3 linked regions of the Homo sapiens genome follow. The protein of the gene in region 2 interacts with the protein of the main gene of each other region in a biochemical or structural test. Each region holds a gene or a part of one and is shown on either strand. Other genes may lie near its edges. The genes, in order: SLC9A1, MAP3K14 and ZFP91.

The links.
Region 1: the proteins of MAP3K14 (region 2) and SLC9A1 form a complex in vitro, tested with the Homo sapiens proteins (one study listed by BioGRID).
Region 3: the proteins of MAP3K14 (region 2) and ZFP91 form a complex in vitro, tested with the Homo sapiens proteins (one study listed by BioGRID).

The regions. Positions count from the first base shown.
Region 1 is NC_000001.11:27,102,634-27,110,431, forward strand, and holds part of SLC9A1 (sodium/hydrogen exchanger 1), read right to left. Parts: intron 7,145-7,798; coding exon 6,894-7,144; intron 5,233-6,893; coding exon 5,015-5,232; intron 3,455-5,014; coding exon 3,252-3,454; intron 680-3,251; coding exon 590-679; intron 111-589; coding exon 40-110; intron 1-39. UniProt on the Homo sapiens protein: Electroneutral Na(+) /H(+) antiporter that extrudes Na(+) in exchange for external protons driven by the inward sodium ion chemical gradient, protecting cells from acidification that occurs from metabolism.
Region 2 is NC_000017.11:45,312,144-45,323,548, forward strand, and holds the start of MAP3K14 (mitogen-activated protein kinase kinase kinase 14), read right to left. Parts: upstream 4,878-11,405; 5' UTR 4,817-4,877; intron 295-4,816; exon of another isoform or gene 142-294; intron 1-141.
Region 3 is NC_000011.10:58,613,621-58,622,132, forward strand, and holds the end of ZFP91 (E3 ubiquitin-protein ligase ZFP91), read left to right. Parts: intron 1-608; coding exon 609-723; intron 724-3,095; coding exon 3,096-3,195; intron 3,196-3,575; coding exon 3,576-4,086; 3' UTR 4,087-7,930; downstream 7,931-8,512. UniProt on the Homo sapiens protein: Atypical E3 ubiquitin-protein ligase that mediates 'Lys-63'-linked ubiquitination of MAP3K14/NIK, leading to stabilize and activate MAP3K14/NIK. It thereby acts as an activator of the non-canonical NF-kappa-B2/NFKB2 pathway.

The sequences.
Region 1 (7,798 bases), on a different chromosome or scaffold from region 2:
CCTGCCCCTCCCTGCCTGCCCACCAGGCCTGCCACCTACTTGTCCTTCCAGTGGTGGTGACCGTAGTGGCCACAGATGTCTTCGATGCCTGTCAGAAGGTGGTCCAGGAACTGAAAGGGGCCCAGGGCCAAGTCAAGCCTCGCTGTGGGGCGCCTTCCCTACCAAGACCTCTGACTAGCCCCACTCCCTCCCGTAGCTGCAGCCCTGCTGGGTCCAGCCCTGTGGTTCCATGAGCAGCCAGGAGGTGGCGCCCACACTCCACTCATCGAACCCAGCGGCCCTGACTCTGGGTATCTCGAAGCCTTGCCTGTGTCCGGCTGAGCCCCCTTCTCTAATCCCACCTGGGACCTATGCCTGGGATAGGTTTCAAATGGAGGCAGAGATGGCATGATGCCCCCTCCTCAGGCTCCCAGCTGCTCACACCACACCTTCCTATGGCTAGACCCTGGCGGCCTCCTGGGGCAGAGGGAGCCCCTGGGCACTGGCACAGGGAGAAGGGGCTGATGGGGGGCAGAGACTTGAGGCCCAGCTGCTCCCTATCTCCCTGTTCCTCCTTCTGCAACCAAGGGCCCAGCCCGCACTCCAGTACCTGTGTGTGGATCTCTTCGTTGATGGAGCGCTTCGTCTCTTGCTTTTTCTTCACAGCCAACAGGTCTACCAGGGGCCGAATGGTCATGCCCTGGGGGGCAGGCAGGTGTCAGGCACTCCAGTTCTGCTACCCAGGCAGGGAGGCCACAGAGCCTCCCTCCCTCACCCCAGGCCCCCAAGGCTAGGATGCCCTCTCTGCTCTGCTCTCTCCCAGGACCCAAGGGTGTGAGAACTCTCCCACCTCCCAGCACTTATCTAAAGACAGGTCCTTAAGGCCTGCTTCTTCCTGGAGACACGGTCAGAGGTTTCACTGCCAAATGACCCCCACACTGGTCATCTGGCCTGGGCCAGGCAGCAGACAGCCTGGGTTCAGATGTGGACTGCACCACAGACTTGCTCTGCAACCCCATGGAAGTCAGGCCCCACACACAGGGAAAACTACCTCTGCACTGCCTCCCCACCAGGACTGTGAGGAGGACCGAGTAATAACAGCAGCAGCAGATGGAACTGCACACCTGCCATGTGACCAACACACGTGCTTGGAAGTGTTCTAGCATCAATCAGCTCTCCAATATCCGCAACACTAAGAGGGAGGTCCTTCCATTGTCTCTATTTAACAGATGCAGAAACTGAGGCTCAGAGAGGATAAGCAGCTTTCTAAGATCCCAGAGAAGCAGTAAAGCCATGATTTAAACCCAGGCAGGCTGGCTCTGGAGGGAGGCCCCCTCCCCAATGTTGCCTTCAATGAAAATGGGCTTGGAAAATCATTAGCACATACAACTGCAAAATCAAGGTAAAAAAAATTTTTTGAAGATGGAAGCAGGGCAAGAGGACAAAAGTGGCAGCCTCCTCCTCTTTTTTTTTTTTTTTTTTTTTTTGAGATGGAGTCTTGCTCTGTCACCCAGGCTGGAGTGCAGTGGTGCGATTTCAGCTCACTGCAACCTCCACCTCCCGGGTTCAAGTGATTCTCCTGCCTCAGCCTCCCAAGTAGCTGGGATTACAGGCGGCTGCCACCACGCCCAGCTAATTTTTGTATTTTTAGTAGAAACAGGGTTTCACCATGTTGGCCAGGCTGGTCTGGAACTCCTGACCTCAGGCGATCCGCCTGCCTCGGCCTCCCAAAGTGCTGGGATTACAGGCATGAGCCACCGCGCCCAGCCTCTCTCCTTTTTCTTAACTCGAGAGAGAGTCTCACTCTGTCACACAGGCTGGAGGAGTCACACAGGCTCAATCACAGCTCACAGCTGCCTCAATCTCCTGGGCTCAAGCTATCCTCCCACCTCAGCTTCTCAAGTACCTGGGACTTACAGGTGTGTACCACCATACCCACTAATTTTTTTTTTATTTTTTGTAGAGACAAGGTTGCCATGTTGCCTAGGCTGCTCTTGAACTACTGGGCTCAAGGGATCCTCCTGCCTCGGCCTCCCAAAGTCCTGGGATCATAGGCGTGAGCCACTGCACCAGGGTCCCCTCTCCCTTTAAAGGACAGAAAATAAGCCCAGCCCCAGGTTTCCCCTATTTTTTTTTCTCAAGAGAATGCAAAGATGTATCCCATCTAGGGCTTTTTGAGTATCAGTGCCCAGAAAAGACAGAAAGGATGGTAAAGAAATGGAGGCTCAGACAGAGTGTTTCTTATTTGCCCAAGGTCAGGCAAAGTCAGGTAAGGCAGAGCAATTTGCACCATCACAGGCTGGGCTTCCTTGGGGACCTTAGGCAGGAGAGTGGCTGTCAGCTAAGCCTGAGCCGTTTAAATGTACAGAAATCACTGAGCAGCAGGCTGGAAGGATTCTTGGGAATCATCTCGCCTGGTTCCCTCACTTTACAGATGGGAACTGAGACCCAGAGAAGAGTGGGGGTCTTTCTTAGGGTCAGAGGGACACCAACACAGAGCTAGGGCTGACTCCAGGCCTCCTGCTGCCTGGCTCATAGCCCTTTCCAGTTCCCCATGCTGTGATATTATTCCCATTTTACAGATGCAGAAACTGAGACCCTAAGATATGAAATCTCTTGCCTAAAGCCCTACAATGAGTTAGTAGCAAAGAGAGATCTTGGGCCTGTTGACTGTACCCACTTCTCTCTCTTTTTCTTTTTTTTTGAGATGGAATTTCACTCTTGTTACCCAGGCTGGAGTGCAATGGCGCAATCTCAGCTCACTGCAACCTCCACCTCCTGGGTTCAAGTGATTCTCCTGCCTCAGCCTCCCAAGTAGCTGGAATTACAGGTATGCATCACCATGCCCACTAATTTTGTATTTTTAGTAGAGACGGGGTTTCACCATGTTAGTCAGGCTGGTCTCAAACTCCTGACCTCAGGTGATCCACCCCCTCAGCCTCCCAAAGTGCTGGGATTACAGGCGTTGAGTCACCGTGCCCGGCCAGTACCCACTTCTCTTAATGCTCTATGAGTTCCAAATTAAGTTGGGCAGCATTCTGGTTCCTTTACATTCTGATCAGTCACTCTGCAATGACTCATCACAATTCTCACTTTACGATTGAAGAAACTGAGGCCCAGAAAGGGGGAGTGGCTCGCCCAAGGTCACACAGCAAGTTAGTGGTGGAGCTGGGACTAGAATCGCATTTCAAATCACACGCTTTCCTCTCTTTCCACGGGAACAGCCTGTGAGGGTCCCCAAGGCAAGGGCCTGCCCTGCCCTGGCCCAGCACCTGCACAAAGACGGTGAAGAAGATGACAGTGATGATGGCAGTGAGGAACAGGTCACACATGGGGAAGTGCTTCTTGTCCAGGAGGTAGCCCAGAGAGAAGGCGATGGCCCCTCGCAGGCCCCCATAGGCGATGATGAACTGGTCCTTGGGGGTCAGCTTCACGATACGGAACTTGTTGATGAACCAGGTCAGGCCCAGCACCCCTGCAGGGGAAGGCAGGGGGTGATGAGGGTCAGGTCGGGCTGTCCCCAGTCCCTCCTGGATTCTGCATCAGTGATTTCTCTGTGCATCCAGGAAGTCTCCATTACGAAGCCCACCCCGCTCACTCAATTCCTGGGTCCCTCAGCCCAGAGTGCTCTGAACTCCTCAATCCAAGAGCTGGGTGGATCCTTAAAGGACTTCCCCAACCTGGATGTGCTTTAGAGACATCATGGAGGCCTCCAGTGGCTGGAGGGCTGGGGGCAGGAAGAGGGAGAAAAGATCAAACAAGATGGGTCACAGGTCAATACTTGTTAAATGTGATGGGTGTGTGGGGGGTCATGATCCTATTCTCTCTACTTTTCTAAGTACTTGAAATTTTCCATAATAAAGCATAAAAAATGCAGAGGGCTGGGCCCAACCTCCACCCACAGAACCAGAATCCCTGGAGGATGAGGCTCAGGAATAAAGGGGATTTCAAAAGTGCACCAAATAAATGTGAGGTCCTGCCAGGCTTGGGGACATGGACCTAACCCTCAGAGAGGAAGTGAGAGATCCAGGGAGGAGGCGACTGAGGCACTGGGGTGAGGCATGTGGGGCACATGTGAGTGGAACCCATGCACCTGGGGCCTGGTCCCCACGTGTGCCCCGGCCTGCTGCATAGGTTTGGAGGACTGCACGTGGCTCTGCATGCGATTCGGCACATGCTCACGTCACCTGTCTTGAGACAGTGCAGAGAGCACTCAGCTCAGAGTCACAGACCTGGGTTCTGTGGGCCTCAGGCCCCTCATCAGGACAGCCACAGCCACAGGCTCAGAGTCTCAGGGCCCCCTCACTTTGACACAGCCTGACTCTGTCCCCAGAGACCACAGCCTTGCTGTGACACAGGCTTCTCCCTGCTGAAGGGCCCATCATGGAAATGGGAAGTCCCTCCTGTCTAGCTGTGCTGGGAGCAGGCAGGAGCCAACCAGGAAACCTCCACCACAAACTGCATCACACATATACCCCCAGCCCCTCCACACACACACACACACACCCAGGCCCTCTACACACACACACCCACACCCTCACAGCCCCTCCACACACACCCACACCCTCACAGCCCCTCCACACACACACACACACACCCAGCCCCTCTACACACACCCAACCCCTACACACACACCCAGCCCTTCCACATATACACCCAGCCCCTCCACACAACTATACACACACTGCACCACAGCCCAATCCCTCCACACAACACACACATATATACAAAGCCCTCCACACAACATACTACACACACACACCCCCAACCCCTCCACACACTACACACACACCATACACACATCCAGCCCCCCTACAATGCACTACACACACCACACACGCAATACGCATACACACACACACCACAGCCCAGCCCCTCCACACAATACTTATACACTGCACCACATGCACACACCACATAGCCTGGCCCTTCCACATAGTGCACTGCACACACCACACACACAGCACCACAGCCCACCACCCCCCACACACACCCCACACCACAACCCCCACCCCGCCCCAGCCCTGGCCCTCACCCAGCACGCGGGCGATGAGGCAGAAGAGCAGGGTGCTGATGACGAAGGTCCAGTTCCAGTGGTGGGAGCCGGCCACCGTGGAGACGCCGAGGAAGATGAAGATGAGGGTCTCGCTGACGCTGCTCCACATCTTCAGGAAGTATTTGATGGTGGTGTGGGACTTGTGGGAGATGTTGGCCTCCACATAGGGGCGCATCACCACTCCTGAGGCTATGAGCCTGGAGCAGGAAAGAGCGGGGTCAGGGCTCCGTGTCGAGCTGCACCTGCTCGAGCCCCTCCACTGCCAGGGGCAATGGGGCCACGACCAAGGTGCCCATGTCCCAAGCTCCTCTATGGGCCAGGGGCCCGCTGTGTGCTTTACACCCTCTTGCCACTCATCCTCACATCAACCCTATAGACACGGTGTATTCCTCCATTTTTTTTTTTTTTTTTTTTTTTGAGACGAGTCTCACTCTGTCACCCAGGCTGGAGAGCAGTGGCGCGATCTTGGCTCACTGCAACCTCCGCCTCCCGGGTTCAAGCAATTCTCTGCCTCAGCCTCCCGAGTGGCTGGGAATACAGGTGCCCGCCACCACGCCTGGCTAATTTTTTTGTATTTTTAGTAGAGACGGGGTTTCACCATCTTGGCCAGGCTGGTCTTGAACTCCTGACCTTGTAATCCACCCGCCTTGGCCTCCCAAAGTGCTGGGATTACAGGCGACGAGCGCATGCCCGGCCCTATTCCTCCATTTTTAAAATGAGTGATCTTGGCTGGGCACGGTGGCTCACGCCTGTAATCCCAGCACTTTGGGAGGCCGACAAAGGCGGATCACTTGAGGCCAGGTATTCGAGACCAGCTTGGCCAATGTAGTGAAATGCAGTCTCTTCTAAAAATACAAAAATTAGCCAGGTGTGGTGGTGGGCACCTGTAATCCCACCTAATTGAGAGGTTGAAGTGGGAGAATCTCGAACTCAGAGGCTGCAATGAGCTGAGATCGTGCCACTGCATTCCAGCCTGGGTGACAAGAGTGGGACCCCGTCTCAAATAAAAAAATGAGAGATCTGACTCTAAGAGAAATAGTCACCTCTCCCCTGTCACGCTGCCTGCAGGCAGCAAAGCCAAGACACACAAACCACAGTGTCCAACTCCAAAGCCTGCACCTTTGCCCCAAGGCCACACTGCCTCTTGACCCAATAGGAGTCAATGACACAGACCCATGGTCTCCTGGGTTCATTCCCCTCAAGCGTGGCATCTGCCATTACACAGGGGTCTCCACAGGGAGCTTTGTTCCAAGCAGCTGCTTGGAGCTCGGAGTCCTCCCAGCCCAGTGCTCACACCCGGGCTCTGCTCCTGGGAGCCAGGGGCTCTGAACCCCAGTTCTGCCTTGCTCGGCACTGGAACACCTTCACCCCTCACTGCCTCCCCACATCCCATTCTCCCCATTTCCAGACCCGGTGGAGACCTCAGGACCGCCAGGACTCAGGCCTGGTGAGCCTCCTACTGGGGCTGCTGAGGGGACTCCCTTTGAGACAATGAAGTAGCAGGGCTGTGGCTTTCCTCAACCTGAAGCTTAGTGGCTTCCAAGGCTCTGCTCTCCTATACCCTGGGCTTGCCTTCATGCAGGTCATTCTTGCTTCATCTGCTCATAGCCTGAAATGCCCTCTCCCGATTCCTGGACCCCAGGGGGCGCTGCAGAAGTGCTCCTCTTCTAGGAAGCCACTGATGCCCTTGGCCATTTAAATGGCTACCAAGCAGGTCTGGAGCCTGGAGTTCATGTCTCATCCCTGGAGCTCAAGGCTGGGCCCTGGGAGCTCCGTGAACCTACGAGCCTGGGGAATCCAAGCTGGCAGCCCCCGCCCCCACCCCGCCAAGCCCACTGCCTGCTGCACGCAGACTCACGCCATGATGCCTGACAGGTGGAAGAGCTCGGCTGACAAGTAGGCCATGTAGCTGTAGAGGAAGACGAAGAGCGGCTCGATGACCCGGATGTGGGAGGTAAATCGGGAGGTGAAGGCTGCGATGACCCCGTAGACCACGCCCACAAGCACCCCGCCCAGGGCCACCACGAAGAAGCTCAGGAAGCCGAGGAAGATGTCCACGATGCCCACGTGTTCGTAGTTGGCAAACTCCTCAAAGAGGTGATACAGGACCTGGGGAGGGTGTGCAGGCTGGTGGGTGGGAGGAGAGGGCCCTGGCCCCACGGTTCCCTGGGGTCCACCCAGGGCAATCCTGTCCCCTCCGTTAACCATGGCCACAAGAAGAGGCCACACGGTAGCAGAGAAACCCTAGTGCCAAGCAGGTGCTCAAAACCTCAGCCTGGGGCTGAGGGGCTTGCTCTGGGCCAGCCACGTGCCCCACTGGTGAAGGGTGGGCCCTGGGAAGCTCTGTGAAGACCCTGAAGCCAAACTGCCTGGACTGGAATCCTGGCTCTGCCACTCCTGAGTTGTGTACAGGAAGCAAATTCATCTCCCTGTGTTTCAGTTTTCCTGTCTATAAAATGAGGATAATAATACCAAATCTTAGGACTGCTGTGAGGACTAAATCAGCGAATCAAGTGCTCGGAGCCTTACCTGATGCAGTGTTAGCCACATCTGGTGCTATCAAGTCTGCCTCTCACTGCCTGACCTTGGGCACGTCATGCCCATCACTGGGTTTCAGTCCCTCCTTCAGCACAAAAAAGGGACGTTCACACAATGAACTAGAATGTCATTTCTTAACCTCTGGAGCTTTCTGAAAATACACATGTTCAGGCCATACTGGACTTGGACTCTCTGGGATAGGGCCAAGAAATCTCTATGTAACAA
Region 2 (11,405 bases):
TGCATGGGTGACTCACCTTCCAGAGAAAGTGCTCTGCTCACCTAAGCAAAGCTGCTTGGAAAATGACTAAGGCACCTATCAAATGCACTCTGTGGGGCCAACCAGTTATGGAGCAAGGTCCAGGCACACTCTGCCTCTCACCTCCAGCCTGAAGTCAAGTGCAGAGCTGCCACGCCAGGCCTGCTGGTTTCATTTTCATCTGAACCGAGCTCCACATGAGGCTTGACATCCGGTGATCTATTTTTTCTAAAAACTAGCTTCACTTTAGAAATGACTCTTCGGCCATCAAGTCAGCTTCCCCAAGAGAAAACAAAATGTTATTTAAAGGGAACAGTAGCCTGGTGAGAGCCTATATTTTTGTTTTGTATTAAGGTGAAAAAAGACTTTAAAATATAACATGAAACTTTTTTTTTCCCTTGTGAGATTAAAACAAACGTTTTTCTTTCAAGAGATGGGGTCTCGCTATGTTGCCCATAGCTACTTGACCTCCTGGGCTCAAGTGATCCTCCCGCCTCAGCCTCTCAAGTAGCTGGGACTAAAGAAACACACGTCACCATTCCAGGCTTCTTGTGAGATTTAAAGGGGAATCTGCAAGTCCTTGACTGCAGATCGTGGGCCCCCAGACAGAGTCTCAGAGAGAAGCTGACAAAGACATCTTTACGAGGGGGAAAGGGTGGTGAGCTGGGGATGCCATGTGGTAGTGGGAACCTCATCCCACAGAACCAAATGTTCCCTCCTGTTCCCCCAAAGAACAAGTCCTTGCTGATCTACATGCCATACAGTATTTTCCCTTTCCTCACCTCCAGGATTAATGCAGGAACCTACTTGATCACGTGTGGGACACAGGAAGCCCCTAGACAGGCCTAGCTGTGTCTCCAGCTCAGAGTTAGGATTGTCAACTGGGCAGAGCCTGGACCTTTGTAGCCTCATTTGGAGTATGGTGAGGGCAGTATATAGTGTAAGACAGGGAGAACCCGAGAGCTGAAGCTTTTAGACTGAAGGACTGTCCCCCTAAAGGTCCTACTGAGAAAATGACTCTGGCCTGTCAGGCAGTCTGACCCTTCTTGACATCATCTTACAGAAAACAGGTTTAGTCACAATGCAGTAATTGGCAACTACTACTGCTACTATTACTACTACTACTACTACTACTATTACTACCACCACCAAACACCACCAACAAGAACAACAACAACAACAACAACAGTTACAGCCTCTATGTTCTGTGCTGGGCACTGGGCTCAGCACTTTACATATCTCCTCTCATTTTCTACTCAAAACAGCCCCATGAAGTATTTCTGATCCCATTCACAGATGAGGCACCTGATGATTAGAGAAGTGAAGTGATTTGCTTGCGGGCACACAGGCAGGCCGTGGCAGACCTCGACCTGACCCAGGTCTCTCTGACCTGACAGCCTCAGCCACCACATGTGACACGGAGACACCAAGGACTTGTTCTGTTGCTCTGGACAAATCACGGGCTCTCTGCCTTTGTTTCTACATCTGGAAAATGGGCACAAGCACACCTGTCCAGGCAGCAGGCTATTCATCTTTTGGCCTTTTATTAATTAAAAATCAATATCAATTAATAATTGATTGGTACAATAAATAAATAAAGCTGCTACCCTGGTTTCGTTATGTTCAAAATTGACATGTTTGGGGGAAGAAAATCCTTATCGTTTCATGAGCAAGGTAGTAGAAAAAGCAGTGACCTAGATATCAAGAAAAGGGGGTTTAGATTCTGAGCAATCCTGTCTGTTTCTCCTTATGAGGCTTCACTTTTCTGATCTTTGTCCCTGCCCTTCTTCACATGAGTATGGTGTGAAAATACAAAGACTGGCCATAAAATTATTCTTGATGCCACATAATTTCAAGGGATTTCTATCAGGGAGCTGAGGGATTAAGACATGTAGAAAAGCAAGAAGGGAAGAGGCTCCTTTAAACTAGAATACAAAGAGCACACCGGCCACTGAAGAAAAATGACTTTTTCTGCATTGTCATTCAGGCAGTCATAAGCCCAGAACAAAAAAATCTCATACTTCAATGTCCTGCTCAGCTCAACAGAAATGCTCCCCTACAATTTGCCCTACGTCTGGCCTTCCCTTTTTGGGCTACTACTTTCAGCATTTTAGCCAGCATCACCGAGTAAATGCAAAACCTTCACACATGCATCACTTTGAATGCCCACCCAGCTCTTGCAGATGCTCAGCCCCATTCTGTTCCCTTACTAGGGAATCCTGGTGTGTGGAGACCAGAGGGGCTGACATCCTTAGAGCTCCCTAAATCCACTGACATGGAATTGTCCCCGGCCCACCAATTTCACACTGGTGCCATCAATAGTGCCCATAATGCTCAGATGTTTCCAGTTTAACTGAAATACTAAAATGGGGCAAACAGGAAGCATCAGACACAACTGTGGTAGTGACTTATTAATCACGAAAGCAGAATTTTAGTTGCATTTTAACCTTTTGCCAGGAAAAAAAAAAAAACAACCTTGAGATGATGGAAGCCATTAGTAGAAGTACGCTGCCTTTATGCGTATTGGGCTGACTTAGACTTTTTACTTAGGACTGACTTTGCTTTTAAGATTTCTGAACTTTCCCCCCAGAAAGAACATCTGTCAAACCAACCAATATGAATCTGTCAGCTCTTCATCGAGGCAGGCAGGCTTGTTAGGAAAGCCCATGTGCTGTCCATTGAGACAGGAAAAAAAATAGGAAGTTAAAAGTGCCTTCACAGGCCAAAGTGATACAACACTGTTCAGAGGGTGCCAACAACGAAGAAAACAACCCTGGATAAAGCTTTCATCTCTTTCACATCTCCGCAGATCTCTCACCAGACCCTAGCCAGGGATGAACTGTTATCAATCACCAAAAAAAAAAAAAAAATCACAACAGTTGCCGAGGGCTGGACAACCAATCAGCGCAAGCCATCTTCTCAGCAGTAAATGATATACACATATTCCAGGCAGATCACAAAGGAGTCAGTGTTCAACAGGAGAACCAAAATGAGGAACCAAACCTTCATCTGTTGAGGCGAAACAGCCCAACCAGACATTTTTGTTTAATAGAGGGAGACTGATTTGGCAGGGTCTCTGTGGTGCCGCTCCCACAAACTCTTAACAGACAATACCAATGACAAAAAACCCCCTTCAGAACTGCTTCTTATAATCAGAAAACACTCAGAAGATGGCCTGAAGCTTGGCAGCGTCTTGCTGTCTGATTTCACAAAGAGCTGGTACACATACCTGGGTACTTATCTCTAAAATTAGAGTCAGAGACGATTACTTTTATTTTGAGATCTTCTGAGAAGTTCTCCACACCCTTCAAAATAAATAAGGATGTCCGAAAGGTGTCTGAAAAATTCAGAGGTCTGGCATCGCTCCAAAGAAACTGATTGATATCACTTAAAAAACACCAAGAGTAAATCCAAACACAACCAAAGTAAGGCAAGCACTTTTTAAGTGTCCTCTCACATTAAGAGCATAAAAACCACACCAAAAACTTCTCCCTCCTTTCTGCATCTCAGTTCTATAATGTGGTCCTGATCTAGGATTCTGGGAAAGACCCATCCTTAGTCCCAGCTATGAGGCATCAGGCAAGATATATACCACCCCCACTCCCTCATACACACCTGCCTCAGGTGCCTCGCCCATAAAACAAGACACTACAATCTGTCTTACCACACAGCCATCTGAAGGAAAACGGAGCTCACAGGTATGAAGACACTAAGCAAAAAACACATCACTAATGTTAAGATACTGTCTCCTTCTAATCTTTCAGAAAGACCATGTTTCTAGTCAAGGGGTTTCCAACATTTTTCTTGGAATAAACTCCAGACTCCTATTTTATATCATGACCTCACTCTAATCATTTAATTTCATGTGCTTTTAAAGTCCTTAATTAAGTCATTGGTGTTCATTGTCTCCAGCGATCAAAAGTAGTTTTACCATTTACTTTGCTGATGTATGTACCTTTTCACCACTTATCCTCTCCCTCATTCATACCTCCAGTCCACCCTTTAGGGCCGAGAGCAACTTTTTAACCTCGACTAGGAAGGAAACACTTTTTCTGAAGCTACCCAGCACTAAGGAGGCTCCCGGGCAGGTGGGAAACGTACGTACAAGTGGCCCCTCTCTGCCTGGTGCCCAGTGGCTGCAAGATGCCAGGGCCACGATGGGTTTCCAAGATGGGAATGTTATATTTGAACCGACAGATAAAGTCCCGAGTTGGAGAGCCCAGAAGAATTACAGAGGAGGACTGGGGTCCGAGGGCGGAGGGAGGATGCTGCGGGCGGCCAGCACTGCCCCGCTGCATGCTGAGGACAGGCTTAGCTCCTGCTCCCCGCCTTGAGGTGTGACCTGAGAACTTCCCATGAAAGGCCGGGAGGGTTTCACGCCAGGGCAGATGCCAGGGCGCACTCCTGCAGGAGACACGTCCGCCCCGCGGCAGGCGAGCTCCATCCTGGGGGCACTGGGGCGCAGAGCAGGCGGGCGGGCCTGGCGGCGGCGCGGGGCACTAGTGAAGGGGAAGCAGGCGGCCCCTGCGCGCGCTCGGAGCCAGCGTGTGGCCAGCAGGAGTGCGCGGCCTGGAGGCCCGGGGCGAGCGCGGCACCGGCAGCGCGTGCGAGGGCGCGCCCGCGGACCGCTGCGAGTGGGTTGGACGGGGTACGTCGGACTGCGCTGGCCTGGCCGCCGACCCCACTGCTCCGGGGCGAGGGGCCAGGCCGCAGCCCAGCCCGGGGCTGAGAGGCGATCCATCCCAGCCGCTCCCTGGTCGCCTCGCACCGGGCCCCAGGGTCCCGCCCCGTCACCTACCGGCCAAGCGCCGATCTCCCCAACCAAGCGAGTGTTGCGCTCCGCTCGCCCGCGATCTCCCGCCGCCGGCCGCCGACCGCTGAGCTCCCGGCCCGTGGTCGCCCCGCCCCGGTCCCGGGCTCCGCCCCCTCGCCTTCTCGGCCGCCCCCGGGGCCACGCCTCCCCCGGAGGCTGTAACTTTGCCTCGCTTCGCGCCTCCTTTCTTTGGCCGCACCGCGACCCGTGGCCCCGCCCACTCCCCTACGCCAACCAATGAGACGGTCGTCCCGGCAAGCCCGTCTTCCCGCTCCCTAGCAACGATTGGTTAACGAGGCCTGGTTTCCAGAAATGGGCACTATTTCCGGACGATGTTTGTAGAAGGGAGATCGCTGGGCGGGCGGACTGACAGAAGGCGGAGGCGACTAGGGTGTTGGTGGAACCACACATGCGCCCTCGGCTTCTGGCAGTCTTACCAGCTGCGTTCTCGAGGTTACGGGAAGGAAGGGCGAGTGTGCGCATGCGTGGGCACTCCCTGCCACTGACTTCGGTTACCTTGGAGACAGCGAGGCGCTCTCCCTCGTGGGTCGCGCGCGTTCCGCTTCCTCTCTGCTGCCAAGCGGTGGCGGCTGAGGCGGGAGGTGGTGGGGGTAGAGACGTTTTTATTGAGCTCTTACCGTGTGCCTGGTCCTGTAGAATCCCTGGAATGAGTAAAGAAGGTTACAGTGCCTGCCCTCGAGAAGCTTGGGGAGCCAAGGGCTTACAGGGGCCCGACCTGTGGGTTGAAACCCAGGTACAAAGAGAGCATGTGGGTGCGTGGCGTGGTACGAGCGCTGAGCAAAGCATCTGCTCTCTGGGTTTGCAGACCACAGAGCCAGCAAGAGGATGAGAGCTTGATGTATGCAAAGAAAGGACCTGGAGTTCAGAATATGCATTGAAGTGTCAACAGTGCTTCTTTCTGAATGGGGGTCGGGGGTGGGGAGTAGGGAAGGTATAGAAACTTTTTCTAACTTTTGCCCCTCTGTATTATCTAGTGTTTCCACACTGAGCTTGTATTTTATTTGTAATAAATTCCAGGCCAGGCACGGTGGCTCACTCCTGTAATCCCAGCGCTTTTGGGAGGCAAAGGCAGGAGGATCGCTTGAGGCCAGGAGTTGGAGAACATCCTGGGCAATATAGCAAGGACCTCGTCCTTGCAAAAAAATAAAAGAATAGCCAGGCGTGGTAGTTTGCACTTGCAGTCCCAGCTAGAGGGGAGGCTGAGAGTCTGAGGTTACAGTGAGCCATGATCGTGCCACTGCACTCCAGCCTGGGTAACAGAGTGAGGCAGTCCTTTAAAAAAAAAATCCAAACTTTTTTTTTTATTGCAAAATAAAAGATGTACTCCTACCCTGGGCATCCCACTTCCATGAAGGGTCCATGGTAGGTGTGGTGAGTGGCTCTAGTCCGGGGATAGGCAGGCCCCACCCAAGGCTGTCTTGAAAAGTAAGGAACACCCCATCTCTGGAAGTGTTTGAGCAAAGACCACCATCTGCTTGAGACTACTTTGCAGACAGTCCGAAGCTGAACTCTTCTTTCTGGATATCTGTGCCAAACAGTCATCTCTGCTGGGGAATAGGGAAGACCATTTATTTAGGCAGTGGTCAAAAACTCACAACCTGAGGGCCTCATTCACTCACCCAGGCCAGAAATATGCTTTGTTTGGCTGGCCCAATATTTTTTTAAATTTGAATTTGAATGCCTTAGAGCAGAGCCTGCGGTTCCTTACAGTTCCCGCCACCCAACCATCTAACCTTATGTCACCTGTCTGGCCCCTGGAGCATTTGAGGTTGTGGCTCCCGTAGAGTCCGTGCTTTAGAGCCAAACAGTCTCTGGCGCCCACCCTGGCTCTGCCACTGACTAGCTGGGAGATGGCAGACAAGAAAGAAGCTGGACTGGTGGCCCCCAAATCTCTTTCCACCCCTAGGGTTTTGCATTTCAGTGACTCAGGGAAAGGCAGAGCTTGGCCAGATGTACAGGTTGGTATCGGCAATCTTGGATGCCCTTATTGCCTCTCCCACCACCTGTTTGCCTCTGGGCACACCACTTCTCAGGAAAGATGTGGGCACACCTCCAGAGTCTGCAGACACTCCCTGGCTTGCCTTTGCCTTCTCTCTCTTTCACTATTCCTTCTTTAAAACACCCAGTGTCTCTGTACTTTGCCCAGGTTCCCTTGACACCTCTGGTCCTGGGTCCCCTGTACACTCCCACCTACCCCATCAAGATGATCTGTCTTTAAGTCCGTCCCTGAACATTAATGTGTATTAATCAGAGACAGTGAACTGTGTTGACTCAAAACTGTAACTCTGGAGAAGGAATGTCACATCAGGTTGCAGGGGAGGAGCAAACCACTAAACACTGGTAAGGAAGATATTCGGGATAAGCAAGGCCTCTCCGTTTCAGCTACTTTTCTGAGGTCTTTCCAAGCCCCACTGTGTGTGGGTGAGGTGAGAAACAATACACCTACCCAGAGTGAGCAGTGTGGTGTCTCTGAGTCTTGAAATGCTTGCACCCTCTGGAAGGAGAGCTTCGGGACGAGATTACTTCCTCCAAGCTTAAGTCAAGACAACCTGGGAAAGCTTCTGGCCTTGAGTCACTTGTGCAGCCTCAGCTCTGCTTTAAATACAAGAAATTGACATTTACAGGATGACTCACACCTGGAGCAGTGAACTAGGTTCTCAGTACTCAAGGGTTCTCACACCCCATCCATTTCAGGTCTGGAAATAGCGTTAAGACTGTGCTATTCCGAAAGAATCGCAGCTTGTTTTCTGATACTTTACAAAAAGTAAGCCAGATAGACTTAGAGTACTTCATGTGCATAACCTCACTGAATGTTCCCTCTAGGCCAGGGTTTCTCAGCCTGGCACTATAGACATTTGGGGTTGGATAATTCATTGTTGGGGGACGGGGCTTGTATTCGCCTGTTTTCACGCTGCTGATAAAGACATAGCTGAGATGGGGTAATTTATAAAGGAAAGAGGTGTAATGGAGTCACAGTTCCATGTGGCTGGGGAGGCCTCACAATCATGGCAGAAGGCAAAAGGCATGTCTTACATGACAGCAGACAAGAGAGAATGATGAGAGCCAAGTGAAGGGGAAACCCTTACAAAAACATCAGATTTCATGAGACTTACGCACTACCATGAGAACAGTATGGGAGAAACTGCTCCAGTGATTCAATTATCTCCCACTGGGTCCCTTGCACAACACGGAATTGTGGGAGCTACAAGATGAGATTTTTTTTTTTTTTTTTTTTTTTTGAGATGGAGTCTCCCTGTGTCACCCAGGCTGGAGTGCAGTGGCGCGACCTCAGCTCACTGCATCCTCCTCCTCTTGGGTTCAAGTGATTCTCGTGCCTCAGCCTCCTGAGTAGCTGGGACTATAGGTGTGCACCACCATGCCCGGCTAATTTTTATATTTTTAGTAGAGATGGGGTTTTGCTACGTCAGCCAGGCAGGTCTTGAACTCAAGTGATCCACCCACCTCAACCTCCCAAAGTGCTGGAATTATAGGCATGAGCCACTGCGCCTGGCCTCAATGTGAGATTTGGGTGGGGCCACAGCCAAACCACATCAGGGCTGTCTTGTGCATTGCAGGATGTTTAAAAGCTTTCCTGGCCTCTGTCTACTACATACCTATAGCACTCCCTCATCCACCCAATGTGACAATAAATGTCTCTGGACATTGCTAGATGTCACCAAGGAAGCAAAATTGCCCCCGGTTGAAAACCCCTACAGTCTGACCCCATTGAATAGGTAGTATTACTGTCCCCATTTCACTGATGAGCAAACTGAAGCTCAGACAGAAGTAACTTTCCCAGTGTCACTTTGCTGTAACAGGAGACCCAGGATTCAAACCATGTCTGACTTCAGAGCCCCTGCCCTCCTGCATGCCGGACTCTGCAGAGAGACTTCAGGGTTCAGGGAGCCAATTGCCCATCAGTTCTCTAGGACAGTGCTGAAGAGTGAGTAAATCAGTGAAGGAATGCTATCCTTGGATCATTTTTCCTTTTCTGTTTGCCTTGGAAGAAAGGAAATTATATTCTGGTTTTTATTGCCTTAGTCAGCATGGTTTATGGTGCTGAGCCATGTCCAGTGAGAAAGTGGCTGATGAGTCATCTGAATGTGGATTTCAGGCCCCAAATTACTGTGAGATTCTGAAGTTACACTTGAGAATTCAGATGTGAGGCTGAGATAAGAGATGACTGGGGACTGTAGGGTGGATGTTCCTGGAGGAGAGCAGTTTTCCTTTCCCTGTCGGGACTGCCTGAAGTTGCAGCCACAGTGCTGTTGCTGCCCTCCCCAGCTTGGACCTGCCCTACTGCTGCTGTTAGCTGAGGTCTATGGAGAGGCCAGGGAGGCAGGAGGGGAAATGGATAAATGGATGCAGGCAAAGTGTGATCCATTCTCTCTAGCTATTTTGTGATCAGTGATCTCATATTGGTAGCTTGAAATTGGACATGTTGGGAGTATTTATACCATGGAAGTTGGCAAACAGTATAAATCAGGGCTACCCATCCTGAGTTGGTTGTTAAACACCTGCTGGCACACCACTGTGTGCTGGTTCTGGCCTGTGCCTGCTGCCCACCAAACCAACCCCACATAGGGAGATGGCAGGGGGCACCACAAACCACAGAGCTGCTGTAGAAGAGGAGGGGCCATGGCGATGTGGGTGAGGGGGAGAGGAGTGCCAATTTCAGCAAAGAATGGAGGTGAGGGCTGGTAGGGGACTCTGGAGGGTACTGGGCAAAGATGACCTTACAAGAACAGGTCCTGGGCACACCTTCCAGAGATCTAGCCTCCTCTCCCAACTTTGGAGCCTTCTTAGGGTGCCCTGGCTTGACACAAATTCTTCTCATTTCCTGATTTGGAGATTTTCCCCTCCAGACTCACCTGCTTACCTCTAGTCTCCTCTCCACACTATCCTCAAGCCTTCTGGTGAATTGAATCTTCCTAAGAGATCGCATAGGTCCTGTCATTCCACTCCCAATGTCCCAGCATCTCCTGCCCTTCGATATCTCCCTCCTTTCGCTTCTTCCTTTCAACCTACAAATGAGGTCAAGCCGAGGACACCCTAAAAACAACAAACAAACAAAACCTTGCTAGTTCTGGCTTTCCCCTGCACTGTTAGCCCAGCCTTCTTTCCCCCTTCACTCCCAAACTTCTTGAAAGTCTGCTTCATCTCCCACCCAAGTGGGCTCCTTACAGCCTGGTTTCTGCTCACCAGCCCTTCTCTCCATGAACTGCCTCCTAGTAGATGACCTTGTCTCAGTTTCTTATCTGCAGCCAGCCACAAATGTGATGCACTGAGCTCCTCTGTGTCAGGCTCTGGGTAGGAAGCATGGAACCTCCAGACCAGTCCCTGCCCTTAGGGAGCTTCCTTGAACAGGTAGCAACAGATGAGGACTTAAGCCACTGCAAGTGTGGCAAGAAGATGGGGAGACTGTATCATGTCAGGTAGGATCCAGCCAGGAAAACAGGACCCATTTTGAGGGTTTTTTTTTTTTTAATTTTGATAGAGGTAGGGGTCTCCCTGTGTTGCCCAGGCTGATCTTGATCTCCTGGCCTCAAACGATTCTCCCGCCTTGGCCTCCCAAAGCACTGGGATTACAGGCATGAGCCTCTAAGCCCAGCCTCATTCTGAATTTTTATTTTTATTTTATTTATTTATTTATTTTTGAGATGAAGTCTCACTCTGTCACCCACGCTGGAGTGCAGTGGCATGATCTTGACTCACTGCAACCTCCACCTCCCGGGTTCAAGCAATTCTCCTGTCTCAGCCTCCTGAGTAGCTGGGATTACAGGCGCCTGCCACCACACTCGGCTAATTCTTTTGTATTTTTAGTAGAGACGGGGTTTCACCATGTTGGCCAGGCTGGTCTTGAACTCTTGACCTCAGGTGATCCACCCGCCTCGGCCTCCCGAAGTGCTGGGATTATAGGTGTGAGCCACCTCGCCTGGCCTCTGAGTTTTTAAACAGAATAAACATAGAATTGAATGCAGGAAATTGGTTACATAGGGGATGAAAGGATGGAGAAGTTCTTCAGACAATGGGGGAAGTAACCAGGAATCCAGCTGCGACCCCTGGGTTGGAGGGACTGGACTGGGGCAGTGTAATCAAAGGCTGGGACTGGGGTCACTTGGAAGAAGTTGAAACCATAGAGAAGACACAACCACTTCCACAGATACCACTAAGACTGAGAGGGATGGGGAGAAATCCCTGCATTCTCCTTCCCTTCTACCTTTGGGTTTCCTGCCAGAGCCTCTTACTGGCCTGGGAGCCTAGAGGGGTCAGTCACTTGCAATGCAGAGCAGAGCAGGTGAGGGCTGGATGGGGGAGCACACAGCCCGGGACCAGCGCAGGGATTCCTTCTACCCTCCACATCTATCGTTACCATGTCCATCTCCCCTGTTGAGGCCAGGCCTCATGACTCATTCATCTCTCTCCGGCACCAGGGCCTAGTCAAGTGCCTGGCACCAAATAGGTGCTCAACTACTGTTTGTTGAATGATTCAATACAGCCAGTAGTGGATGAGGACTCCAAGGGAGAGAGTGTAGAGAAATGAGGGGCTTAG
Region 3 (8,512 bases), on a different chromosome or scaffold from region 2:
GAACTCAAACCTGTGATTTCTTGGGTACTGTGTAGAATGAATAAAAGACTTTTAGTTGAGGTTTTGTTTTTATTTTTCTTGAGTAGATTATTATTATTATTTTTGATGAGTAAACGTACCACTTATATTTAGGTCTGGCAGGAAACGTGAAAGTGAAATACTGCTTAGGAAATACCTGTTTGATCTTCAGCAACAAATATAACATGACACGAAGGCCTTCTTCTGGATCGTGGTTCAGTTATAACAATAGCCGCTCCTCCTCTGCTGTGTGCCATTTGCTGCTCTAAAGCACAGTACAATACATAATCTCTTATCCCCATAACAACACTTTGAGATGGTTATTGTTACCTCCATTTTACAAATGAGAACTGGAGCTTGAAATATTTGTCTCCTAAGATTACAAAGGCTAGTGAATGACAGACCCAGATTGGAAACCAGGTCTGTGTATTTCCACCTATGTTCTTAGCCACTTTATTATACTCCCTCACTATCCATGTGTGAAATCTAAGTATTTGGTTTTCCTTCAGTACTTTTGACTTAGCAAAGACAAGTACTTTCAGGAAGCCTTAATTTTTTTTTTTTCGCCCCTTTCACTTTCTCTGTTTTAGCACCACATTAAATACCAGCATTTGCTGAAGAAGAAATATGTATGTCCCCATCCCTCCTGTGGACGACTCTTCAGGCTTCAGAAGCAACTTCTGCGACATGCCAAACATCATACAGGTACTTTTAAAATGTGTTTATCAAGTAGGTAATTGCACTGTGCTTTAGTTTTGCATGTTGGTAATGATAACGTTTTTCTAACATAAGTCTTAAAAGATTCTATAGTCAAGTGCGGGGAAAAGGTGTGAAAATAAAATGTAGTAAGACAAATTTTACAAGGGATGGGCAGACTAGGACTTTTGAATTTTTATCCTTTGACTTCTTGAACTTCTATGACCGGGATAATGATCTTCTATTGAGCATTTATTCTGTATCAACTGTGGACTAAATACGTTATGTATATTATTGCTAATTAGTCTATTCAACACCACTAAATTTGTTTATATTGATCTTATTTTACAGCTAAGAAACTAGAAGCTTGGCAGGATTAAGTAACCTGCCCATGGTCACATAGCTAGTTTTTAGGAGAAGCATAATACTCTGCTGCTATTGAAACTGTGAAGTCTAGCTGTTGAATTTGCATGTAAACTCCCATAGGAACTGTCAAAAAGAGTTGCTGAGTGTCTGCAATATGTATTATAGAATAGACTCAAATTCAATTTATTTGTAACCACTGACCATCTCAGTGCAGTGTACCTAATAGGAACAAATTGGGTGCATACCACTGAGTATGTCCCAGACACTTGATAATTACACATTACCTTCTCAACAGTCTTAGAGAGTAAGTCTAGGAATTCTAGTTGTAGAAATATGTCTCCTGCCCAAGGTCATACTGATAAATGAAATAACTCCTTCATTTACTGTAGGAAAGTTACTTAACTTCTCTTTTCACTTTTCCTTCTCTGTGTATTAAGGATACCAATATCAGTTATTGTAGGGATGAAATGAGATAACATAAAATGCTATTGACTACACAGAGCCTGGCACAATACCAGGATTGAACTTGAATCTTAATCACTCCAAAGTCTACAGTTTTCTTATACCATGTTTCTTCAGAGTTATTTCCACAAGTAACAGTTATTTCTGTTTCTTGATAGGTACTGCAATTTCTCTGTTCCTTCTGCTCCCTGTTAATACTGTTTTATGCCATAGAAAAGTTGTTTCTGACAGCCACTTTAGATTGTTTTAGTTAAATATCAAAAGCGTATGAAAAACTTTTATAAATTCAGTCCATTTCAAATATTTATATTTGGTTAATACAATTTATGATGTTTTACTTTTGCAAATTAGTATATACAGACTTTTTTTTGCAAATGTCATTTATTTAGCAAATAGATGCCCCACACAGGTTTGTCCTGCTATGGAACTGGAAATGTGGACATGACCTGGGAGATGCTAAGAGTTTCCTAAGTTAGAACTGTGCGTTTTTAGACCTTGCTATATAAAGTATGGAATACAGACCAACCAGCATTGACATCATTTGGGTTCTTATTAGAGATACAGAATCTCAGGCCCTGCTTCAGACCTGCTGAATCAGCATATACATTTAATAAGCTATCCAGGTGATCTCTAAGCTGTTTGGAAAGGAGTATAAGATTAAATTGGATATTGTTCACCTTTTAACTTAAATTCATGTTTTCATTCTCATTAATTCTGGTAATTTGAAGCAAAAGGAGTAGAAAATGTAGTGGTCATTAATTCAACAAATATATATAGAGAGCATCTCTTTGTGCACGGGCTTCCCAAACACGGTAAAGAAATGAATAAGTACAATGCTCCTTTTTCCTCCTCATAGATTCCACACCGTGTTACCACATTCATCAGAAATCCTGCATAATGGGGTTGAGGGTGTTGTGAGTGACAAAGGGAGGTAGTTGAAAGGTGCAGAAGATGGGTAGGAGAATAAGGTAAAGTAGTACAGGTGTTATTTACATATATTTGATAGCAGCAACTCCAGTCTTTTGAGAAAAGTTTATCTTGAGTAACATTTTTTAAACCTGAAACAGGGTATGATTACCTTTAGATCAGTTTTCTTCTATACAGTGCCAAGTTCTTGTTTTTTGTTTTTGTTTTGTTTGAATGCCAGATTCTTTCTGTGTAATCATTCAGTTTTCATTGTCTGTGAAAAAAATTGTTTACTCCTTAAAGGAGTAAAATATATGGAAAATATAGTTGTTTACTTGCTAACCACTTGGTATCCAAGACCTGGATTAGTGGTAAAATTGAGATTAGGATTCCATTTCTTATATTTTTATCTAGTTTTTCTGTTTGTTTTTGTTTTTTTTTAAACAGGTCCTTATGCTACTGAATGTTGGATTTTTTTTAAAGCAATACTTTTCTTTTTTAAATTTTGTTTACCCAAAGTGTTTATACATTGAAAACAGCATTGCTTTTACTCTAAATTGCCTGCCCCATCATCTGCTTACTTACTGTAAGGGAAAATATTTACAGGGTATCTAAATAGAACACTAACCACAGTATTTTCTTCATAGATCAAAGGGATTATATCTGTGAATATTGTGCTCGGGCCTTCAAGAGTTCCCACAATCTGGCAGTGCACCGGATGATTCACACTGGCGAGAAGCCATTACAGTGAGTATTATTTACTGGTGAACATCTGGGTGAGAAGGATATATGCCCTACTTGAAGGTTTGCCGCTTTACAAACATATTAGTTGCCACTGCTGTTTACTTTCATCAAATAAATGAGTGGATATTGATTGGGGGCATTAGTTAGTAGCCTTTTTCTTAGTTTCCCTCTGTTTTTCAGGCAAACAGAAGAAGATCAGATTAGTTTTCCATCTAGTAACATTTCCCAATCCTTCAAAAGAAGTATGTTACTGATTATTGTGTGTGTGTGTGTGTGTGTGTGTGTGTATGTATATATATGCTCTAAACTCTAACCCTGATCCTGAATAAGAGCACTCTTTATTTCTCTGTTGGATCAGCCATTTCCTTTTCTCCTCTCCTTAGATGTGAGATCTGTGGATTTACTTGTCGACAAAAGGCATCTCTTAATTGGCACATGAAGAAACATGATGCAGACTCCTTCTACCAGTTTTCTTGCAATATCTGTGGCAAAAAATTTGAGAAGAAGGACAGCGTAGTGGCACACAAGGCAAAAAGCCACCCTGAGGTGCTGATTGCAGAAGCTCTGGCTGCCAATGCAGGCGCCCTCATCACCAGCACAGATATCTTGGGCACTAACCCAGAGTCCCTGACGCAGCCTTCAGATGGTCAGGGTCTTCCTCTTCTTCCTGAGCCCTTGGGAAACTCAACCTCTGGAGAGTGCCTACTGTTAGAAGCTGAAGGGATGTCAAAGTCATACTGCAGTGGGACGGAACGGGTGAGCCTGATGGCTGATGGGAAGATCTTTGTGGGAAGCGGCAGCAGTGGAGGCACTGAAGGGCTGGTTATGAACTCAGATATACTCGGTGCTACCACAGAGGTTCTGATTGAAGATTCAGACTCTGCCGGACCTTAGTGGACAGGAAGACTTGGGGCATGGGACAGCTCAGACTTTGTATTTAAAAGTTAAAAAGGACAAAAAAAAAATCTAAAGCATTTAAAATCTAGTGAAATAACTGAAGGGCCTGCTCTTTCCATTGTGGATCACAGCACACACATACATACACCCTCCACCTCCCCATCCCCTGTTCTCCCTCTGTTGCTCCCCTTATAAAATTGATGTTGTCTTTACCAGAAAGGTAGACAAAAAAGAAGCAGCAGCAGCTCTTAAAGTGAGGGTTATTCTCATACTCGGTTCCAGCCATCAGCAGACTTCCTGCTCATCGGCAGATCCCCCTTTCCAACCTGTAACTCTGATGTGCTCTGGATCAGCTTTTAACTTTTAATCATATATTACTGTCTTCTAAATCCCTTCTCCTCCTCTACTGCTGCCCTATGGTTCTGGCTCCTACCCCCTGCGGCACACTTATCTTCAAATACCATAGAATTCTAATCTCTGGAGGCTGGCAGCTTGACTTGGCACTTTAGGGCCCCTTAGCAGGGTGAGCTGTTAAAACAGCACACATCTCTCATCCCCTCTTCCTTTATTCCCCCCTGGGTTTCAGAAAGGAAGGATATATGGGGACCACCTCCCCCTTCTTTGATCCCAGCATCTCAGTCCCCCTCCCAACCCTCCATATGGCTCTCAATGGTGCTCACTTGCTTGGAAGCAGGCTCCCAATAGGGAGGGGGCTGCCCTCTACAGTCTCTTTGACTGTAAGACAGGGCTCTGTATCAGTGAGACGATGAGAAAAGTCCCAGGCTAATGGCAGAAATTTGCACTTTGAACATGTGTGTTTTTGTGTTGTGGAACCTGAGATTCCTTATTTATTAACAGGAAGTCTGATTTTTTTTTTTTGGAGTCTTTGTTGCTATATTTTGTGGGGCTGGGAGAGAGAGATTAGATTATTTTGACATGGGATCCCTTCCATAACAGGTACTTTGAAGGCAAGACATAGGGTTGAAGAAGCACAGCCAGCCTCTGAAATCATAGCTCTCCAGTGGCTTTTAAAGAAAGCTGGTCCTCAGCACTAACAAAATCACTACAATAGCCTAGTGCTTTTTTGGAAGCCTTTTTAGGGAAGAATGTTAGGTTCATGGTAACTAGTATGCTCTTTGAGATTTTTACAGTGTTGAAACTTAAGAATTTTGAGAGGGTGAGGAGGGTTGTTCAGAATCTAAATTACAGATAGATGATTGTTTCTTGTGAATTTGTTTCTTTTCCTTTTTTTTTGTCCCTACCATTTCCTTACATTTCCCTTGGGGCCCATCTCTGGCTCCTTGCTTTTTGTTTCTTGCTTTGCTTTATCAGTTCATTCCAGCTCCCTGTTAGTGAAGGACACTGCTGTTAGTGAAGGAACAAAGTCTATGAGTCCTAAAATTTTAAGTCAAAGAAAACTGCTCTGTTTCCCCTTTAGTAACACTTCTGAAGAGGAAAAACTTCAATAGCCAAAGTTAATAATCCTATATAATAATTGCTTTGGCTTTCACCTAAAATTCTGGGCATCACAATTTCCTTGGGATAGAGGTTGTGTTGGGGAATAGATTGCTTATTGCTGTTCACTGGAGAGAAAAGGTAGTGTTTTTGTACAAGGTCATACCGCCAGAAGCCCCAAATCCTATTTTGGCTCATCTTCAGGTAAAGAGTAATTCCTATCCTGTGTGCCTCAGAAGCTAGAATCGAAGGCTTACCCTATTCATTGTTTATTGTCAGAAATGCATGATGGCTCTTGGAAAGAATGACGTTTTGCTGGAAAAAAAAAAAAGAACAGTTTGTGTTTCACAAACATGGCTTATCAATTTTTTCAAAGAATTCTTTTTTCCCAAAAAGAGGAGTAACAAAATGTCATTTCTGAAAGAGGCTTACTTTATACCAACTAGTGTCAGCATTTGGGATGCCAGGGAACAGAGAGTGAGACACCTACAATCACCAGTCTCAAATGCGCTATTGTTTCTTTTCAGAGTGTTGCAGATTTGCCATTTCTCCATAATATGGGGATAGAAAATGGAATAAAGATAGAAGGGATGTAGAATATGCTTTCCTGCCAACATGGTTTGGAGTCGACTTTGGTATATTGACTAGATTTGAAAATACAAGATTGATTAGATGAATCTACAAAAAAGTTGTCCTCCTCTCAGGTCCCTTTTACACTTTTTGACTAACTAGCATCTATATTCCACACTTAGCTTTTTTGTCACACTTATCCTTTGTCTCCGTAAATTTCATTTGCAGTGGTTAGTCATCAGATATTTTAGCCACCTACACAAAAGCAAACTGCATTTTTAAAAATCTTTCTGAGATGGGAGAAAATGTATTCTCCTTTCCTATACCGCTCTCCCAACAAAAAAACAACTAGTTAGTTCTACTAATTAGAAACTTGCTGTACTTTTTCTTTTCTTTTAGGGGTCAAGGACCCTCTTTATAGCTACCATTTGCCTACAATAAATTATTGCAGCAGTTTGCAATACTAAAATATTTTTTATAGACTTTATATTTTTCCTTTTGATAAAGGGATGCTGCATAGTAGAGTTGGTGTAATTAAACTATCTCAGCCGTTTCCCTGCTTTCCCTTCTGCTCCATATGCCTCATTGTCCTTCCAGGGAGCTCTTTTAATCTTAAAGTTCTACATTTCATGCTCTTAGTCAAATTCTGTTACCTTTTTAATAACTCTTCCCACTGCATATTTCCATCTTGAATTGGTGGTTCTAAATTCTGAAACTGTAGTTGAGATACAGCTATTTAATATTTCTGGGAGATGTGCATCCCTCTTCTTTGTGGTTGCCCAAGGTTGTTTTGCGTAACTGAGACTCCTTGATATGCTTCAGAGAATTTAGGCAAACACTGGCCATGGCCGTGGGAGTACTGGGAGTAAAATAAAAATATCGAGGTATAGACTAGCATCCACATAGAGCACTTGAACCTCCTTTGTACCTGTTTGGGGAAAAAGTATAATGAGTGTACTACCAATCTAACTAAGATTATTATAGTCTGGTTGTTTGAAATACCATTTTTTTCTCCTTTTGTGTTTTTCCCACTTTCCAATGTACTCAAGAAAATTGAACAAATGTAATGGATCAATTTAAAATATTTTATTTCTTAAAAGCCTTTTTTGCCTGTTGTAATGTGCAGGACCCTTCTCCTTTCATGGGAGAGACAGGTAGTTACCTGAATATAGGTTGAAAAGGTTATGTAAAAAGAAATTATAATAAAAGGGATACTTTGCTTTTCAAATCTTTGTTTTCTCTTATTCTAGGTAAGGCATATTAAAAATAAATATGTAAAGAAGAAAAATAAAAGTTGTCTTCATGGAAGCAACTTGTCTTCCTTGGTTGTACTGAGTTACAGTTATCCTAGGGGTGAAACATGTGATGCTGCTAAGCAAACCAAATGCCCTCAGAACAGGTGTTATGTGGGGCATACTATTGTTTGCTTTTGTTGAGAATCAGGTGGTTAATTTTTGACTGTTCTTGATTTCTAATGCTGAAATGACATGATTCTGTTATTCAGCAAACTTGGAAATCTTGATGTTTTGACAACTGCCTCCTAGGAAAACTGGCCATATGTTAATTAACCTAGTAGATGGAAAATTAAGGATTATGTGAGGTTAATTTTACCCTGATAATGACAAAACCTTGATAGCATTTAATATTAATACTTCTTCTCAAAATTGAATGTTTATATCAAGTACTGATTTTTATTTTAAAAAAGAAAAAACTATAATCCTTCTGCCTTCCAAAAGCCATGCTGTGATAGCTGCCCAGGCTGCTCTGTTACATCTCCCATTTATTGTTTACTTTTATAAATTTGCTTCTAAGATGGTATGTGTTTCAGCTTATTGGCAATATCTATGATATAAATAATGAAAGCTAATTATTTCATTTAGCCCTTACCCAATAAGCATCATTTTCTAAGTTAAATGCAATAGAATGACAACCCTCCAAGTACCTTTTAACTTTTATACTGTCATTTCAAAGCCCAGCTCATTCTCTTATTTTAAGAAGCATGTGGTATGACTGGGTAGGGGAGAAAAAAGGAAAGCATGTTGTCACTTGAGTGAGACTGCTTTAGAAATGTTACCAAGTTAGCGTTGGGTGTTTCCTGTTCTTTGGAAGAGAACAGGCCTAAACAGTACCTTCCTCCTCCTATGTAGCTACCAGGAAGGCACCGTGATTGAAATTAGAGATGCTTCCTTGCTTGATTTTTAAGTATAAATTAAATTACCTTTAAAAAGTACGTAAGGTTAGGAGTGAAAAAAATCCTGTTTTTAAAGGACTTCACACACCCTTTGTTTCTTGAACAAGATGTGAACTACCTAAACAGAAAATGAAATTGGAAAGTCAGTGGGAGAGACAACTATAGAATCAGACTTCTATTTAAATTCAAGCCTCGTTACTTGATTTT